2 separate regions of the Homo sapiens genome follow, and region 2 is linked to region 1. A link means that fine-mapping ties the variant in region 1 to the expression of a gene that starts in the linked region. Tissue or cell type: monocytes. Region 1 holds a variant in brackets; the other region holds the start of a gene. All regions are shown on one strand. Distances are between the middles of the regions. Region 1 has its middle 48 kb from the start of MIR4276. Region 2 holds the start of HPGD (15-hydroxyprostaglandin dehydrogenase).

Region 1 (5,387 bases):
TATAACAAAATGGCTTTCCAAAACACATTGGATAGCTTGATTTGCCCTCTAGATTCACTCTTAACATTGCTTTGAGCTCCAGGTTAAAGACTGGCAACTCCTTTGCCTTTCAGCACCTGATTTAGTTCAATCAGTAGGAGGCTCTCAAGAGACTTGAGATCTAGAGAAAAGCGAGATCAAGATATTTTTCCTTGACTTCATTCCTGGTTTGGTTATCTCAGCATCTATCAGGCAGTCATTTGCACAGCTACTCACATTGTGTTCTAGTTATCATTCCCCCCTTTGCTCCTCCGGGTCCAGAAGTGGTAACACCTCCCTGCAGTTACTAGTCCCAGGGTCCTGTGCTATTTCTGCTATTTCCCTGAGTCCTGCAGATAACTTTATAAATAATTGTTTTAATAAATTAACTTAAAATTGCCCAGTTTGAGAGTGCCATTTGTTTCTTACTGAAATCAATACCAATAGATTAGAATTTATCAAATGACTATTAACTACAGCTGTTACTTTTTTTTTATTTTGCTCAGAAATACCCTGTTGATGGGGTCAAAATTAGATGAAACTAGAGTAAAACATCTCACACTATTAGCAAAGAAAGGTGAATTATGAATAAATAATTTCAAGAATAAAAATGGGTCATACAGACAATAAAAAAAGTTCAATTATTTTATTAAATTTATGAGTCAATTTGATTATTTATATAAAATAAGCAAATACCTAGAAGTAAACAATTTACCAAAACCGACACAAGGAGAAACAGAAAAATTGGATTAGTCAGATAACTACTAAAGAGATTGCAAACTCATCAATTTATTTAATTTATAATTAAAAACCTTCTCATAAAGAACATTCCTTGTCCAGATGGTTGTTTCAGTGGTGAATTCTACCAAATATTTAAAGATGAAACAATTCCAAATTTACTCTGGCTCTCCCAGAGTACAGAGAAAGAGACCACTGCCAACTTATAACTGTGATTTCAAAAACTGAAAAGGCATTATTACAAAGGAAAAAAAAAGGTATAGGCCAATCTCACTTTTGCCATAATGAACATAAATATAAAATTCCTAAATAAATTGGAAAAAGAAGTTCTTTTATATCAAAAATAAGAAAAAGTCATAAACAAGTGGAGTTATAGTAATTGAATTTGGTCTCACACTCAAATTTAATCAGTGAAAATTATCATATTAACAGACTACAGAAGAAAAATTGTATGATCATATCAATATATGTAGAAAAAGCTTTTGGATGTTGATAAGATTCAACATACATTTTCAAAAACAACAACAAAAGTATTAAAAACTAATAATAGAAGGGAGATTTCTTAGTCTCATATAGAACATCCACCAAAAAACATATTGCAATCATCATACTTACTGGTGAAATCCAGTACAATCAGGCAGTGAAAGGAAAATGCAGTGTAAACATTGGGAACAAAACTATCAATGTATAAAAGTTTTTAAAACTTCTAATAAATTATTAGCAAGAATCAGCAAGTAGGTAGAATACAAAGAAATGGCCCAGCGTTTCATTTCAGGCTCCAAAAAGGCTGTATTTCACACACACACAAAAAGGCAAACCAGAAATAGAGAGCAGGCCTTACAAAAATGAAAACCTAGGCTCAAATGAGCTTCATCTTAATCAGATTTAGCTGACAGGCTACTACTTTACCTATCCACCATCAGCTAATGAACCCCTCTCTGAAGAAAAATTATAAGCCAGAGCATATACAATTCTTCATACAATTTCTAGCATTTAATTAAGAATTAGCAGACACATAAAGAGACAGGAAAAAAATAATAATTAAATGAAAAAAAAAAAAAGACAGCCCCTACGGGATTGATACAGGAATTATCAAAAACAGATTTTAAAATCATTGTGATTGATATGTTCAAAAATTAGAAGAAAAGATTGGGAATTTTTCCAAAAAACTAGAAACAATGAAGAACAGTTTTAGAAATGAAAAAAAAAATTGAAATTAAGAAAACAATAGAATAAGAGATTCAACACAGCTTGAGAGAGGATTTGCGACTCTGATTTCCGAATAGAAAATAGGCCAGTAGAAAATATTTAGATTGAAACAAAAAGAGAAAGGGGAATGGAAAAATACAGAAAAGAGAATAAGAGAGATATGGACTTTAAAAACAGTCTAACAAGCCGGGCGTGGTGGCTCACGCCTGTAATCCCAGCATTTTAGGAGGCCAAGGCAGGTGGATCATCTGAGGTCAGAAGTTTGAGACTAGCCCGGCCAACAAGGTGAAACCCTGTCTCCACAAAAAAAGGCTGAGGAAGGAGAAGTGCTTGAACCTGGGAGGCGGAGGTTGTAGTGAGCCACGATCGTGCAGCTGCACTCCAGCCTGGGAAACAAAGTGAGACTCCATCTCAAAAAAACAAAAAACTGAAAAAAACAACAAAAAAAACCCAAAACAGTCTAACATAGGTGTAATTAGAGACCTACCAAAAAAAAAAAAAAAAAA[AG/G]GAAATTAAAGCAGAAGCATTATTTGTAACTAATATTCAACAAATGTTCAAAAGTAATCAGATTTTAAGCTGCTGATTCAAGAAGCAATACAAATGGCAAGAAGAAGAAAAAGAGCACACCAAATAGAAGTAAAAGCCAGTGACCAGAAGAAATCTTAAAACCTGCCAAGGGGAGCAGGGGGAGGCAAACTGTCTATACAAGAAGCAAAAATAAAATTGATCGCTAATTTCTTAGCAGAAACTACATAAATCAGAACACAATGAAAACTATCTTAAGGTTCCAAACAAATAAAAACTGAATGTAAGTTCTATATTGAGTTAAGAAAAATCTTATAAAATCAAAGAGGGTGTGTTAATGGCATTTCCAGGAAAAAAGAAAATCAGAAAATTCATCATAAATAGATTCAGATTCAAAGGAATACAAGTAAAGAATTTTTCAGGAGGGGAAAAGAATCTTCCAGATGAAGGAAGAGAAATTCAGGGTAATTTGAAGGGTAATGGAAAAGGAGTGAGGAAATCAAAATGAATATTTACTATATTAAGTCAGGAAAATAATGACTTCTAGTATTTAAAACATATGTAGAATTAAAATACAAAAAAGCATGAAAGGCAGGTGAGATCAAACAGAGTTAAAGTGTTCTAAGGTGTTTGTGTTTTCAAAGATCTGGTTAAAAAAAACCACAGTGGCTCACCCCTGTAATTCCAGCACTCTGGGAGGCCAAGGTAGGTGGATCACCTGAGGTCAGAAGTTTGAGACCAGCCTGATCGACATGGTGAAACCTCGTCTCTACTAAAAATACATAAATTAGCTGGACACAGTGGCATGCACCTGTAATCCCAGCTACTGAGGTGGCTGAGGCAGTAGAATTGCTTGAACCTGGGAGGCAGACGTTGCAGTGAGCGGAGATTGCACCACTGCACTTTAGCCTAGGCAACAAAGTGAGACTGTCAAAAAAAAAAAACACTAATTAAAATTAAAATTAGATATTAGTAGGTCAAGAAAGCCTAATGTAATACAGAAGGTAAATAATGTAAAACTAATAAGGTAATTTAGAAGAGAGTTAAATAATAATATTTAATTGATGAGTCCAAGGGAGGAAATAAAGCAAAGAGTATATAATGAGTAGACCCAATAGAAAACAAATACGGTTGACCCTTGAACGAAAACGGTTTGAACTGCATGGGCACACTCACACAGGGATTTTTTTCAATAAAAGTTACACTGGGTGTGCCTGCATCTCCTGCTCCCCTTCCACCTCCTCCATCTCTTCCACCTCTGCCACCCCTGAGACAGCAAGACCAGTCCCTCCTCTTCCTCCTCCTCCTCAGCCTACTCAACATGAAGATGAAGAGGCTGAAGACCTTGTGATGATCCACTTCCACTTAATGAATAGTAAATATATTTCTCTTCCTTAGGATTTTCTTAACATTTTCTTTTCTCTAACTTACTTTATTGCAAGAATACAGTGTATAATACATACAATATACAAAGTATGTGTTGACTATTTGTTATCAAGAAGGCTTTTGGTCAACAGTAGGCTATTGGTAGTTAAATTAGCCGGGAGTCAAAAGTGTTATGTGGATTTTCAACCTTGCCTCAGGGAGTCAGTGCCCCAGTCCCTCATTGATCAAGAGTCAACAGCAGTTGCATCAAGGATCACATTGAAGGTCAGATCGTCCCACACTCTTCTTTACTACCCTCCAGTGGTTTCTGGTTGCAAATAAGATCAAATACTCCATCTCTGATTTCACCTATTTTCACCCCCCTCCTTCCTGACTTCACTCTAGCTTCACTAGCTTCTCTGCACCTTGAATGTACCAAGCATCTGCCCTTTAGGAACTTTGCACTCACTCTTCACTCTGTCTAGATGGCTCTTTTCCATATATTTCCAAGAATAGCCTGACTCTAATATTATGTCCTTCAAATGGCATCCCACGTCCTCCACTCTAAATTAATCAGTTAGTTATCCCATTCTAGGTTATCACACCACCCTTATTTTGTTTTCAGCTTCATAGCACTGATCCTCTGAATTTATGTTAGTCGTTTTTTTCTTCATTATGTTTTTTTCTACTCTACCATAACATAAGCTCTATAAAAACAAAGACCTTACTTGTTTCTGTTCTTTACCTAATCACAGCATATAAAACAGTGCGTGGAATACGGTGTGCATCAAGTAAATATTTACTGAATGGATGAATGAAGTGTCTAATGAAGTGGGTAAGGCACACTAGGCTGTCTTAAAAGAAATATAAATTTCCCAAACATGGAAGTTTATATGTTCATTCTTTTATTGATTAGATGATTTCTGGGATACTGTATTTGAGTCTAAGTATCACATTTTAGAGGCTTTTGCCAGTCTGGAGTTTGGATTTTATCGTAACGACAACAGGAGAAAAACACACAAAACTACAAATATTTGAAATTGTCATAAGGAAATAGAATAGATAGTTGCCTCCTGTAAACAGAACTATGAATGAGTAAAGGTGAAAGGGATGTAGTTGAAGGTACCTTCAGAATTAAGATACTCCAAATGAAATGCCTTTGTAGTTTTCATTGACAGAAAAAATTGCTGTGATTGAGATGACTGAGGCCGATGCCAGCTAGTCACATATTAGAGATTCTATATACAACATATCTGTAAAAGTGAGAAGTTGGACCGAATGACCTTGAGAGCTCCTTAAACTTTGTTTCTATTCTACAGTGCTATATAATGTCATCACAGTTCAGTTTACACAAAGTAAATACAACTCATAGTAATATTTCCTTAATCATAAAGGATCATTATGGTATTCTCTCCCTATTTTGATTTCTTTCTAATTTTTTCTAACATTTGGTTTCTCCATTCCATTTACTATCTGAAGAATTTTGGTAGGAATGCTTCCAGAACCATATGGCCCTAGTTTGCTATTTCTGC
Region 2 (5,387 bases), 51 kb before region 1:
ACATTTGAGTTAATAAATATGCTAATAATCAAATATCCTGATTTTGTCACTATACATTGTATACATGTATTGATATATCACTCCGTACATATATATCACTCTGTATATATAGATCACATAAATATGCACAGTTATTCCATGTCAACTAAAAAGGGAAAAAATCCTTCCTTACAAAGATCACTGTTTGGTAAGCAGTTTAATTCACTGTAATAAAAGCATCTCACAATGCGAAAAAAAGTGGGGGGCGTATTTGGAGGTAATGAGAAGCTAACTGCTGTTTGCTATCATAGGAGAAAATATGAATCTGGACAGTGGCAGTGGAAATTGAGAGGAGGGAAAGGGATGAAGGGGTACTAAGTTTTCTCTAGACCTCAGTCCTTGCTATCTACTAAAAAAACCTATTCTTCACATTTTTCTCTATCTCACATTTATTATTCATTAATATTTCAGAAGTAATATGTTGGGACTAATATTAATGTATTAATACTTTGTGGCAGGCTCTGTAATAGTGTTTAATATGCTTCACCTATTTTAATTTTCACCTTTTTTTTTTTTTTTAGAAAAGCTTACTTTATAATAAGGAATCTGAGACCCAGAGTTGAAGCAAATTGCCCAAGGTTACACAGCTGGTCAGTAGCAGACACAAGATCCAAACCCGGTTTGTCTGAATCCAGTGCTGACGTCCTTGTGCCTCACCTATCCGCCACCGCCAAACTGCTTCCTGTTCTTCCAGTTGTCACTATCCTTGACTCATTGCACTTTGACCTCAATCAATCTTCTTATCTTTTCTTAAAAGAAAAACATGTTTGCTGTCTAATCTTTTCAACTATTATCCAGTCCATTTCTCTTTCCATGTAACCTTGGTCTTCAGTCCATGACAATATCTATCTTCTCACAGATCATTTCAGCTGTTCAGTTTTTGTGCCTTCTAAATTTACTCACACTAAATATTGTCCTGAAAAATTCAAAATATTTCTCCATCCTTTATTCCCTGGTGCTCACCTGAGTATTTTGCATTATTAACTACTTCTTTCTTCTTGAAAGTATTTCTCCCACAAGAGCTGCAAACCTGTGTTCTCCCAGCATGTTGCCATTTTACCCCAGCAGTTCCTTTTCTGTCTTTTTTGCCAGTTCCTTCATCAGAAACTTCTATGTTCTGTGCATGCCATTAGAGGAGCTGAAGTTTTGTTTGGTTCCTTGTTTTCTTTTTGTCTTCTACTATTATTCCCTTTCAATATGACCCCTCAATTTACTCTTCATATTACAATTTTAATTATCATCCTAGAGTACAAATATCTATTTTCCTGTTTTAATTTCTCAAGATTTTGTCAAGACCTAATTTCAAATTAATGTTAAAGACATTTGCTTAGCGGCTTACCAACAACGCGACAAGACACATTTTACACAGTCTCCTCATACACTCCTTCCCTGCTGAGCCAGCCACCTTTCCCAGTAAAGAAGGTAAAGAAGATATAAAAATGATTCATTCTGCTGTTAGTGTCAGTCTTTTGCTCAACTCCCATTTCCCCCAAGTATTTAGATTTTTTTTTTCTTTAAGAAAATAAATGCCAGCTGGGCATAGTGGCTCATGCCTGTAATCTTAGCACTCTTTGGGAGTCCAAGGTGGGAGGGTCGCTTGAGCCCTGGAGATTGAGGTTGCAGCGAGCTGGGATTATGCCACTGCATTCTAGCCAAACAGACAGAGCGAGATCTTGTCTCAAGATTAAAAAAAAAAAAAAAAAAAAAAAGCCAACCACTTACGTTTACAGAATTAAAATTGCAGCCTGCCGCTGACAACCTGAGAAAAAGAGACAAAGTCAGTGGAATAGCCCTTGTTATTTATGCAAGTCCGCATACAGCTAGCCCTGGAGTTCCTGGAGAGCAAGGAACCTCTGTCCCAAACTTGACTCAGAGCTTCCAAAGTTGGTGTATTTCAACAAGTAAGCATTCCATTGAGCCAACAATTTGGTAGGCTACCAGCGGCTCTGGAGCGCCTGTTGATGATGACAGTTTTTGTGGGGGCATCTCAATATGACACACAATTGACACTGACCAGAAACACAGCGCCAAGGACACTCTAGTCCTAGCCATGAAATGTTATGATTCCAGGTTTTCAGGACAGAGCAGAGTCCACTTCTCATCTCCAGTATCCGTAAAAATTTGTCCAAAATGTAACTAAGAAAACACAATGATATTAGTTACTTCTGCTCCCCGTCACCCTCAACCCCACTGATTACGAGATGGGAACTCACACAAAACTTTGAGACAAAAGAGCAACAAGTTTGCTTTATTGTTTGCTTGTTTTGTTCCGGAGTCGGGGCCGGGAGGGAGTGCAGGAGGAGGGATCCAAGCTTCCAAGCCTCTGCTCCGCTCTCCTTCTATCCAGTTGGTCTTTAGGGCACTGAAGGAAACTCTTCTTCAGAAATAACCTTTTAACTTTTCTTCTGTCAGCTGCCTGCCAATCACGGAGCCAGAGGCTGAGGGGAGGCTTTGAGCCGGTCTGCGAGTCCGGAAGGCAAAGATCGCGAAGCTTGGCGCTCCAGAACGCTCAGGGGGCAGGTGACACAGTCGTGGGTTCCCCGGCGGGCGCTGGCTTGACAGTTTCCTCCCCGCCCACTGGCAGGGGAGCGCCCCGCCGGGCTGCACGCGCGCGCGCGCAGGGGGGCATAAAAGCCGCGGCCGCGCGGAGACGCGGAGCTCGCCCACCGCCCGCCCCAGCAGTGGCTGCACCATGCACGTGAACGGCAAAGTGGCGCTGGTGACCGGCGCGGCTCAGGGCATAGGCAGAGCCTTTGCAGAGGCGCTGCTGCTTAAGGGCGCCAAGGTAAGCCCGGCGCCCAGCCGCGGAAATTTCTCTGCCCACACACTCCGAGACTCGCCCCGCCGCCCGAGGTGCACTGGCGGAGACAGGGAGGCCGCGCCCGGCGTGCCCACTTTGCCACTTCCAAAATTTGCTGAAGCTGAGGCTGTGAGCACACCTCAGAAGTGGCTGGGAGGGAACCCAAACCTAATTGCCAAATTTCAGGTCCAGGAGGGGAGCCTCTTGTGTGTTTATTGTTTGTCCGTCTATTTCGTGAGCTGCGCAGGCCCGCGATTCCTCTCCTCTTGTCTATAGGTAGCGCTGGTGGATTGGAATCTTGAAGCAGGTGTACAGTGTAAAGCTGCCCTGGATGAGCAGTTTGAACCTCAGAAGACTCTGTTCATCCAGTGCGATGTGGCTGACCAGCAACAACTGAGAGGTAAGACAGGGGAATCAATCTGTCAACTGGGAACGTGCTCTCAACAAGCAACAACCTGAAGGCAGCCCGGCCAGGGGGCCCTGGGTGCCGCCTCCGCTGCCTCCTCGAGAGCAGCTACCTTGAAGCTCCAAAAGACAGTTTGGACTGATACGTTTCCTTCTGACAGCCCAATAGCTGTAAAACCGAAAGAAAGGCAAGACTGCTGGAGAAATCCTTTTATTGTAGTCATTTGGCAGCATTAATGTAATCAAAATTCCTTTATGTATTCAAAGACAGTGCTGCTGCAGTAATTATTAAATGATTGAAATTGCAGACAAAACTTGGAAAATTAAAGTAGGTTAAGTAAGGTACTGTTGACAAACAACTTCTCCCAGAAAGCTGGAGTCCAATGACAATCAAATGTGGCAGTGTTTTTCGTTTAAACATATCAGAATACAAGTTCAAGGAGCATCATCACAGAAGTGCTAGATGCTTTTGACCATATGTTTTCTCCGGCTTTTTCCCCAATGAGACAGTACTTTAAAATAATAATAATAGTAATCATAATAAAGTATACAATGTTAGAATTGTAGTAGAAACATCTCTATCAGCCTTTCCTCAATGCTTTCCTGTTTCCGGCTACTCACTTAAAATAGACCAATCTACTTGTGAAGTATCAGGGACAATATTGGCATACACAATAAACAGCTTTGATTATAAAGCTGTTTTTTTTTTTTTTGTACATCTATTGGAGAACTTGAGAGTGCCCCAATAAACTTACAGGAAACAAAAATTCTGGAGAAAAACTAGAAAAGTAAAATATTTGTATTTCACAAAGTTTTATTCAAAGAGACTGAGTAAATTGTAAGGCACTTTTTAATCAAGGGGTCTGAAAACTTTTGCAAATCTTATTCCAGTGCTCCTGTTCTTAAAGGGACATCAAATGTACATTTATTTTAAAATTTTAAAATATTCTGTAAGAGAATGAAAATGAACTGACGTGTTAGAAGGAAGTGGTGTACCAACAGTTAAGAGAAATTGTAAAGGAAATTACATAACTGAAATCTGAAAATGCTAATAAAGACCTATAACACAGATGACAAGCATGAGCAGAACAGATTTGTAAACACAATGCAAGAGGAACATATTGTACCAGAGGACAATTATGTTGATTGCACATGATATTTTGGATCAAGGATAGAGCCAGGTCAGATCTCAACATTCATGCTGATGGCATAAGGAACAGTATAAACAATCTGAAAGCCATTTCTGTCTCAATTTATATAGTTTCATAAATGACATTTAACTACAATTGTTTTTTTCCCAGTATTTAAAATTAATACCTTGGCTATAAACTCATTCCTTAAGGATAAATGATTGTGGAGGAGGAAAAATACTCAGACACATAAGTGACCCGGGAAGGCATGTTGGTCATGAGAAATCCACATGTTGTCTGGACATGAGCATTTGCTTGCATCTAAAGGAAACATGACATTGATTCTTCCAGTTTCAGGATTTAATGTTGCCTATAACTTTTAAAATTGTTTAGACAGTGTGGAAATTATAAAAATATGAGATGAAAAGTTTCTTGGAGATAATCTAAACATAACTTATTTTCCAAATGAACAAATCACAGCCAAGAGAGTTTAGGTAAGTTACAAAGAGTACCATAGCATATAAATGTCAGCAAGAGGTAGACTGTCTGTTGCTTGAGCCTGGAATTCAATGGGATGTCAGAAAACAAGATGGTATACTATACATTGGTAAGGGCAGAGTATAAGGAATACGGTGGAGAACAGAATGAGGAAAGAAAATTAAAGCGGCAATTAGACATACATATTTAACACCCTCATTTTCCAAAAGGTGAAGGTTGTTTCTGTGGAGTTATGAAGAGTTAGAACATACTCAGAATGGAAGGAGAAAAAAAAAATACTGGGGGACATTTTCTGGACCCAATTTGAGATTTTAAGAAACATTTTTAAGATTCCATGAAAAAAGGCCGGGTGCAGTGGCTTCACGCTTGTAATCCCAGCAGTTTGGGAGGCCGAGGCGGGCGGATCACGAGGTCAGGAGATCGAGACTTTCACTCGCGTCTGTGTGAAGAGACCACCAAACAGGCTTTGTGTGAGCAACAAGGCTGTTTATTTCACCTGGGTGCAGGCTGGCTGA

What was found. PIP is the estimated chance that this variant, and not a neighbour inherited with it, causes the effect.
Region 2: it holds the start of HPGD, and the variant in region 1 is fine-mapped to the expression of HPGD in monocytes (Schmiedel 2018, PIP 0.95).

Annotation. Positions count from the first base shown.
Region 1 is chr4:174,468,654-174,474,040 of GRCh38, reverse strand. No RefSeq gene overlaps it. Among named protein-coding and RNA genes, the nearest start is that of MIR4276, 48 kb to the right of the region's middle. The variant AG/G (reference allele first, on the strand shown) is at 2,472.
Region 2 is chr4:174,519,796-174,525,182 of GRCh38, reverse strand. It overlaps HPGD (15-hydroxyprostaglandin dehydrogenase), which reads left to right and starts at 2,695. Exons shown (of 7, transcript NM_000860.6): 1 at 2,695-2,824; 2 at 3,116-3,239. The coding sequence starts at 2,732. It overlaps LOC105377548 (a long non-coding RNA gene), which reads right to left and starts at 2,570. Exons shown (of 7, transcript XR_007058492.1): 1 at 2,054-2,570; 2 at 1,762-1,798. RefSeq lists an enhancer at 5,356-5,387.